Linked DNA regions of Homo sapiens. The protein of the gene in region 1 purifies or fractionates together with the protein of each later gene. This does not show direct contact. Each region holds a gene or a part of one and is shown in the gene's direction. Other genes may lie near its edges.

Region 1 (3,652 bases):
GAATGCTCGTCTGCAAGAATGCTCCTCCCCTTGGCTCTCAACTGCATGTAGCCAGGCTCTGCAAGGGGCTGGGATATAGTGGGGAGTTACACAATCCCAGACCCTCCCCAGGAAGAGCTCTGGGCCCCTGGTAAAAGTCAGAGGGACATGCCTATCTGAGGCCCCTTGGGCATCTGGTCCAGGTCACCAGAAAAGAGATACATCAGGCTTATTCCAGTTCCCCCATCTCCTGGGGCTACCTGAGGCAAAAGGGGATAGGCACAGGGCACTGTGCCCTAAGGGAACTGCCTGTCCCCTACTGGACCTGACCATTGTGTTCTCTTGCAGTATGACTGGTATACCAAGGTTACCTCAGTGGTGGTAGATGTTGTGCCTCGGCAGCTGGGAGGTAAGGCATACCTGGCTGGGTGGGTGCAGTGGGGCCTGTAGCTCTGCTTTCCTGCCGTCTGTTGCATCCCTGCCCCGTTCTTCTTTCCTAGGTTCCTTCTGAGGGCCCTACCTCCCTGCTGGGCCAGCCTTATGCCCAGCATCCTCAGGGAGCGGGGCTGTCACCATAGGGAGCGGGGCTGTCACCGTAGGGAACAGTTCAATAGCAAGGAGTGGTAGGACCAAGCTGAGATCAGAGTGGCCCAAGTTGATGATGTATTATTTCCTGTGCTGCAGGTCATAATTAGAGTTTTCTTATTTTTCCAATGGCTGGTTCAAACCAAAACCATGACTCCTTCAAGTGGGTCTCAGGAAGTGCACTAGGTTGGAATGTCACACTCGAGAGGCTCTGGACCCGAGGGCATGATATTATCCCATCCACCATCCTAACCCCAGCAACCTTTGTCCAGTCTAAGCCCTGAAGTCAGCTGGGTCTTCAGGAGGGTGGCTCTTGGCTGAGAGGCTCCCGTCTCGAGTGTTGATAGCTCTGCTTGGATCCTCCTGGACCATCTCAAGGATGAGTCTCTTGTTTTCTCAGGCCACCCGGTCAGTTCCAGGAGTTCAGTGGACAAGGGATAGCCTCTTTGTCTTCTCTTTGGGTTGCAGGGATGCAGTGGTGGGAACCTAGTATGAATCCCAGCTCTGCCCTAAATTAGCTGTGTCCTCAGACAGGGTCCTGGCCTCCCTGAGCTCCCATTTCTTCATGGAGGGGTGATTGTGTCTGCCTGCCTCATAGGATCATAGTGAGTGTTAAGTGAGTGATGATATTAAAGGGTAGGATTTACTGAGCCCCCTGTGCCAAGCGCTGTGCTAAGCACCACAGTGGAGATAAGACGGACAGATGATATCTTGGTTAAAGCACCTGGTACCTACCTGGGTTCAACTGGAATTACTCAGGAGAGCAAGTGCTTTTCCTCTGAGCACCCATGGTTTCTCTCTGGAGCTCTTGAGCTCTGCCTCTCTGGGTCCTCTCTGGGTCCCAAGAGGCCTCTGCCCCTCAGCCACCTACTCAGGCAGCTCCTCATCGCGTAGCGTGCCCCCATGTGTGCTACAAGCTGCAGGGGCCTGACTGGTGCCTGAGTAGGGCCCTGGGTGAATTCCCCAGTACCCTAGCCTTCCTTGTAGACTACCCTCCCTACCTCCACTCCTGGATGCAGCCTCAGCCCTCCTATCTTTACAGAGAACTTCTCTGGGATCTACTGCAGCCTTCTGCCTTTGGGATGCTGGTCAGCTGACAGCCAGAGAGTGGTCTTTGACTCGGCTCAGCGCAGCCGGCAGGTGAGGGACGCTGATTGTGTTGAGGGGCAGCCCCTGTGGTCAACCCCCAGGAGCCCTGGGGGTTGCATGTGCATGCCCCTGGGTGGAATGCCCAGCCACAAAGTCTCATCAGCCCCTTAAAACCCTGCCTGCCCATCCTGGACTCATTTCTCCTGGAGGGGACTGGCTGCCCTGGTGCACCACAGCAGAACTCAGGCCTTTTCGTCTGAGGCAGAGATGCAACCCCTCCCAGGCATTTCTAGCTGGGGGTCAAGGGGACTGCCACTCGGGTGGGTCCCTGAACACTCTGTAATGGCAGCTGATGGGGACAGGACTGAGGCCTTCCCCCAGGGATGGAGTAAAGCCACTCACAGTGTGCCAGGCTCCTTTTGGGTGTGATATTTGGTCCTTGTGCCAACTCAAAGGGGCTCAAAGCCATTCCTTACCTTGCCCAGGGTCACCCAGCAAGTTGTGATGGTGCTGGGATTTGAACCCAGGCCCTCACACTACTCCCTACTGCACTGAGTAACCATCACCATAGCTGTCCACAGCCTTGGTCTGGCCAGGGCTCTCCAAGAGGGTAGAGAGGAGGTAGGGGAGGGACCCATAGGTAGAGGGAGTACTCTTGGATGTGGTCGCACCTGTGGCCTTGCCTCTGCTTCAGGACCTGTTTGCTGTGGACACCCAAGTGGGCACTGTGACCTCCCTCACAGCTGGTGAGCAAGGCTTTGGGGATGGGGGTAAGGGCAGGGCTGGTGAGCAAGCCAACCAGGCAGCGGGGGACTGGAGCTCCAACATGTGGGGCAGTGATGGCATTCTCAGCCACTCAGCACCACTGACTGTTCCACAGCCTTTACTAACAGGTCCCCAAGGCCCCTGTCTGTGCAGACCCTTACCCAACCAACAGACTAGCTTCCCTGCTCTACTGCCCTTTAGCACTCAACTCTGTTCCATGTGTCCTGGCCCAGCCTCAGCACGGCCCCCACCTCTGCTCCTAAAACCCACAAAACTCTCTCTTATCAAGATCTGCCAGACTCATCCTTCTCGCTCTGCAAACCTTGGGTGCCTGTCTCAGGCAGAGGCAGCTCTGCCACCTGAGGGCCCAGGAAAAGCCCAGTGTTGACTCCCCCGTCTTCCCCATACTTAGGCCTGGTGATTCTGCCTTTGAAATGTGTTTTGAGTCCTCCACCTGACCTGACTGTATCCGCTCCTCCACAAAGCTACCAAAGTATCATTCCAAAGCTACATCTCATTGTACAACTGCTTGGACACCACTGCCCCAAATCAGCACGCTCCCCGACCCCCAACTTCCCGGTCCCAGCTGCCACCCTGCACACAGCAGCCATCGAGGGACAGGCAGATGTGCCTGCATGGTCTGATGTGTCTTAAGGTTTGGCAGTTCCCAGCCCAGCCAGTGTCTGTCAGATGAACAACAGACTGAGAGCAGGAGGCTCACCCGGGGCCATGTGCAGTTGGGTGTTTGTGAAAGGCACTTCTCGGGGAGAAAAGGGCACCTTTCCATAGAGTCTCCAGCCTGGGACTCTGTTACAGAGAAGCAGGTAAGAAAGGTGATGGCTCCTGCTAAGCACTTAATGGCATCTGCCTTTTCCAGGAGGGTCAGGTGGGAGCTGGAAGTTGCTCACAATTGACCAGGACCTCATGGTGGCACAGTTTTCCACACCCAGCCTACCTCCAACCCTGGTGAGTGTCGGTGGGTCCCAGGCTGTGGAGGCAGGGGTTCTGGGCAGGCAGAGCTCACCAGGTCAGGGAATTGGCCCCAGAGTCTGACCTGGCTGGTCAGCATACAGACGGGCCAAGACACAGGCCCAGCTTGGCATGGTCCATGAGGGTTTGGCACTCACAGGGACGAACTACTAGGCTAGAATCTGCTCCGTACAAAACAAGGTGCCTGGGGAAGTGCTCTGTCTTGGTATTACAGAGCAAAGGAGACAGCAGAGCCTAGAAGCTG
Region 2 (3,652 bases), on another chromosome or scaffold:
ATAATGGGGTGGGTGTGGGGACGTCTGGCTCAGCTACCGTGCAGGCAGAATTGAGGGGATATGCTGCTGTCCCTCTACTTGCTAGCCATGGTGTGGTCTCAGCAGGGCCTGGGCCGCAGGCTTAGCCTCTTGTTCGGCATCCCCCAGTGTCCTCCACCAGGAGGAGAACTAGCAGGAGGGCCGCCAGGGTCCCTGGTGGGAGAGGAGCACGTAGTCTTCCCAGCACTTCCCTGCCTGCCTAATGCGGCCTCTCCGTGTTCCTGAGAGCAGCCCCCAATCCCCTTGCCAGCCTTGCCTCCTTCCTGCCCCTGCCCCGGGAACCCCGTCTGGCCCAGTCCCAGCCCAAATCTGAGGCAGCTGCCTGAGGACAGCCTTGTACTCACAGCAACACCCCGGAGAGCCAGGGCCCAGTTGGAGGGCAGTCTCCTCCTGATTGCCCTAGGAGAGCACAGTCGGGCGGAGGGTCCCTCTCTGGAACTGGCATTTGATGTGTGCTCTGGTGAGAAGAACTTTCCCACGGAGCACAGCCTCCAGCCACTCCTGTCCCCTTCCCCAGGACCTTTACAAGTAGATTTTCCCCAGAACTGTCCTGCATCCCCGCCCCTGAGGTCCTGGAGCACAAAGGCGAAATGCCAGGCCCTGGAGGTGGTGGTGGGCTGAGTGGAGGCCCAGCTGTCTGGCCCCACCCTTTGTAGCTGCAGGCCACACCCACCATGTGTGGCTGTCAAGCATCATCCCTTAGACTCAAAAGTTTACCATGATACCTGTGCCCTTATGTTCCTTCCACTCAGGAAGCTGCCCCAGTAAATGACTAGGATGACTAGGCCCCTCAAAAGCCATGTTCAGGTGGTGCCTTCCACGCTCATGTGGCAGAGCCAGGCGCGCACACAGCCAGCACCATTGTGCTGCAAGCTCCTGACTCCCAGGTGGCTGCCACTGCTCCTGCCTACACATCCTCACAGCCACTGTCTAGCAGGACACCTGTTTTTCCCAGCCCGTTACTCCTGTAGCTCTGAATGGAAACAGCAGCTCACATGTCACCTCTGTGTGACGGACTCGGCCCCACCCAGACACACAGGTGTGGTTGTCAGCGAGCACCTCAGGAGAACTGAGAAGCTCTTTTTCACCATTCTTTCCCCAAATCAGTCAAAACCTTTTAAAAACCATTATGAGTTGTGAGAAGGTTTCAACAGCTATGTTTTCAAAGTGTGTGTATATGATGGCACTGTGGTCAGTTCACCAAGAGCAGCACTGAGATGGGTGGATCCAGGTGCACCTTGAAAAGTTAATTGCACAAACCTTTGCTTTGACCCCAAATACGCTTGCTAGTGCCCTTCCCTGCAGCTTCCCAGACAATCAGCAGGGTCCATGGGGGCAGGGCCTGGGCACAGCAATGCCCTGCTTCCTGTCTGCATCCATAAGAGGCCCCTCCACACCGAGGCTGCTTTAGGTTAGCCAACCAGGTGCAGGGGAGGCCCCATGCAGGTGCCATTATACCAACAGTGAGCAAGAAATCAGAAAAAAGAGGACTGCCTTATGTTGAGAACTGACCAGAGATTGTGCTGGGCCAGTGTCACTAGGAGGGAGAAACAGATGATGCAGGTCGGGATGAGGCCCCTCCCAGGGGCTTGGACACTGTCCACTCCCTGCTGCCTTAGCTGCCGTTGCATAGTGTCCCCTCCTGTGCCTGGGAGCTTCTAGCCCAGGTGTGGTGTTCTCACCCACCCCTGCAGACTTACAGAACTTGTAAATAGACAGCACCTTGAGATTTCATCACTTTATGCAGATTTCCACTTGGGTCGTTGGGGACAGGGTCTTGGCCTAACAGCCGTCCTCTGACATCCACAGGCTCCCACCACACCACGATTGCAGTCATCGGGGAACTTCTTTTGGTGTCAGGAATGATTGGCTTAAATTAACATTTGTTTGCAAGATCAATTATTTTTTAGCATATAGTTTCTCTCCAAAGAAGCAACTAGGTCTTTAAAGATGTCCCAGTGCTTCTGTTAGATTTTTGACTCTTACCTGCATAATATTCCAAAGCACTCAGATCAAAATAAGACTTTTCCCAGCAAGTAGACTCAAAGAAAAAAAAAAAAGACTTAAAAGATCTATTAATACTAGTTGTGCTCGTTTTAGCAGCATATATACTAAAATTGGAATGATACAGAGAAGATTAGTATGGCCCCTTTACAAGGATGACACACAAATTCATGAAGTATTCCATATATATATATATTTTTTTTTTTTTTAATTAAAAAAGACCTATTAGTTAAATGTGTTAACTGAGAAGCCACATACAAACAGAAGCGAGTGGGAGGAAGAAAGAAGAGCTCAACCTTGGGGCCTGAGGACCAGGAGCTCCAGAGCTCCGAGCTCCTGCAGCCGTCCTGAGGTGTGAGGGTGGCAGAAAGAGACAGATGCTTCCAGGTGGAGCCGCTGGGAGAGGGGATGGGACGCCTAGTTAATAGTGGCAATAGCTGAGACATTCACCCAGAGCAGCACATAGGTTGCAGTCAAGTCCAGACTGACCACGAGTTTGGAAATACTGCCTGAGGCTCTCAGAGTTGGCCATCACCAAAAGTGGGCCCAGAGAAAAATGCCCAGGCATGCTGATAGGATTTCTTGGTATCCTTTCTTGAATCCACATGCAAGAAGATTAACCAAGTGGTGCAGGCTATCAGCCCAGAGTGGGGAAACCCCCACACTTGAATTTGGAATGGAATGTGGCCACGTTCTTCCAGTTTTTAAAACTCAGCGAGAGGCCCAGTCCCTTCTCTGAAGCAGACCACTTGAAGGATTTAGACAGAAAGTGTGTGCCTCCGTGCTCAAAATAGCTGCACACCCACCCTTCCCGGCAGCTGTGCAGCACGCTCACCTGCTTTGTTAGTGAGCACAGCTCTGATAACCAGGCCTGGGCTTCCTGGTGTGGCTTGCTCCCATCCTGGGGCATGCCTATGTCGCTCTAGGGAGGCACAGGAGAGTTTGGAAAGCAGGTCTCCTGTCATGTACTTGTTAGAGTTAGCAGAGGTGCTAAGTCATTGGTGCCCTTCTTTAAGAAAAGAGTAAGAAAGAAGACACAGGCTAGAAGGAAGGGGAGCCTGTAGCCTGATCTTACTCCCTCAGTCAACACCTGAGCATTAAGTGACCAGCTGGAGGTTGTCAGCTGGCTAGTGGCAGAGTCCCAACCCCCAGCTCCCAGAAGTGGACTCTATGTACCCCCAACCCACTGTGGGTTGAGAGGCTCCCAGCCCGGTGCCCGCCAGGCCACTCCCTATATGTGGAATGGCCTTGGTTCCCTCCAGCAGACAAGTCCCTCATCCCTGTTTTACGGGCCTTTCACCGTGTCCCTCCAGACCAGACACAGCCAGCCTCTGCCCACGTGCTCTCTCTTCCTTCCTGTGGGTCCCACCTGGCAGCAACGCAGGAAGGTCCAGGGTTGGCTGGTTTCCATTTCATAGCAGCCTGTCCCCACCTACCATACCAACTTCTCCCAGGAAGAAATGGGGCACAGTACAGTCACAGAAATAAGAGGTAGAGTTGACTGGTAACACCCTTTTCTGAATGCTCTGATGGCATTGCTGAGAATCCCCAGACAGCCCCAGGGATCCTGTTCAGGGCGCCCATGGTGGAGCAAGCTCAGTGAATGCCC

The links.
Region 2: the proteins of APEH (region 1) and MPRIP purify together in Homo sapiens (affinity purification with mass spectrometry; one large-scale study listed by BioGRID and IntAct). This does not show direct contact.

What each region holds. Positions count from the first base shown.
Region 1 is NC_000003.12:49,677,246-49,680,897, forward strand, and holds part of APEH (acylamino-acid-releasing enzyme), read left to right. Parts: intron 1-327; coding exon 328-388; intron 389-1,606; coding exon 1,607-1,704; intron 1,705-2,347; coding exon 2,348-2,399; intron 2,400-3,295; coding exon 3,296-3,384; intron 3,385-3,652. UniProt on the Homo sapiens protein: This enzyme catalyzes the hydrolysis of the N-terminal peptide bond of an N-acetylated peptide to generate an N-acetylated amino acid and a peptide with a free N-terminus. It preferentially cleaves off Ac-Ala, Ac-Met and Ac-Ser.
Region 2 is NC_000017.11:17,167,957-17,171,608, forward strand, and holds part of MPRIP (myosin phosphatase Rho-interacting protein), read left to right. Parts: intron 1-3,652. UniProt on the Homo sapiens protein: Targets myosin phosphatase to the actin cytoskeleton. Required for the regulation of the actin cytoskeleton by RhoA and ROCK1.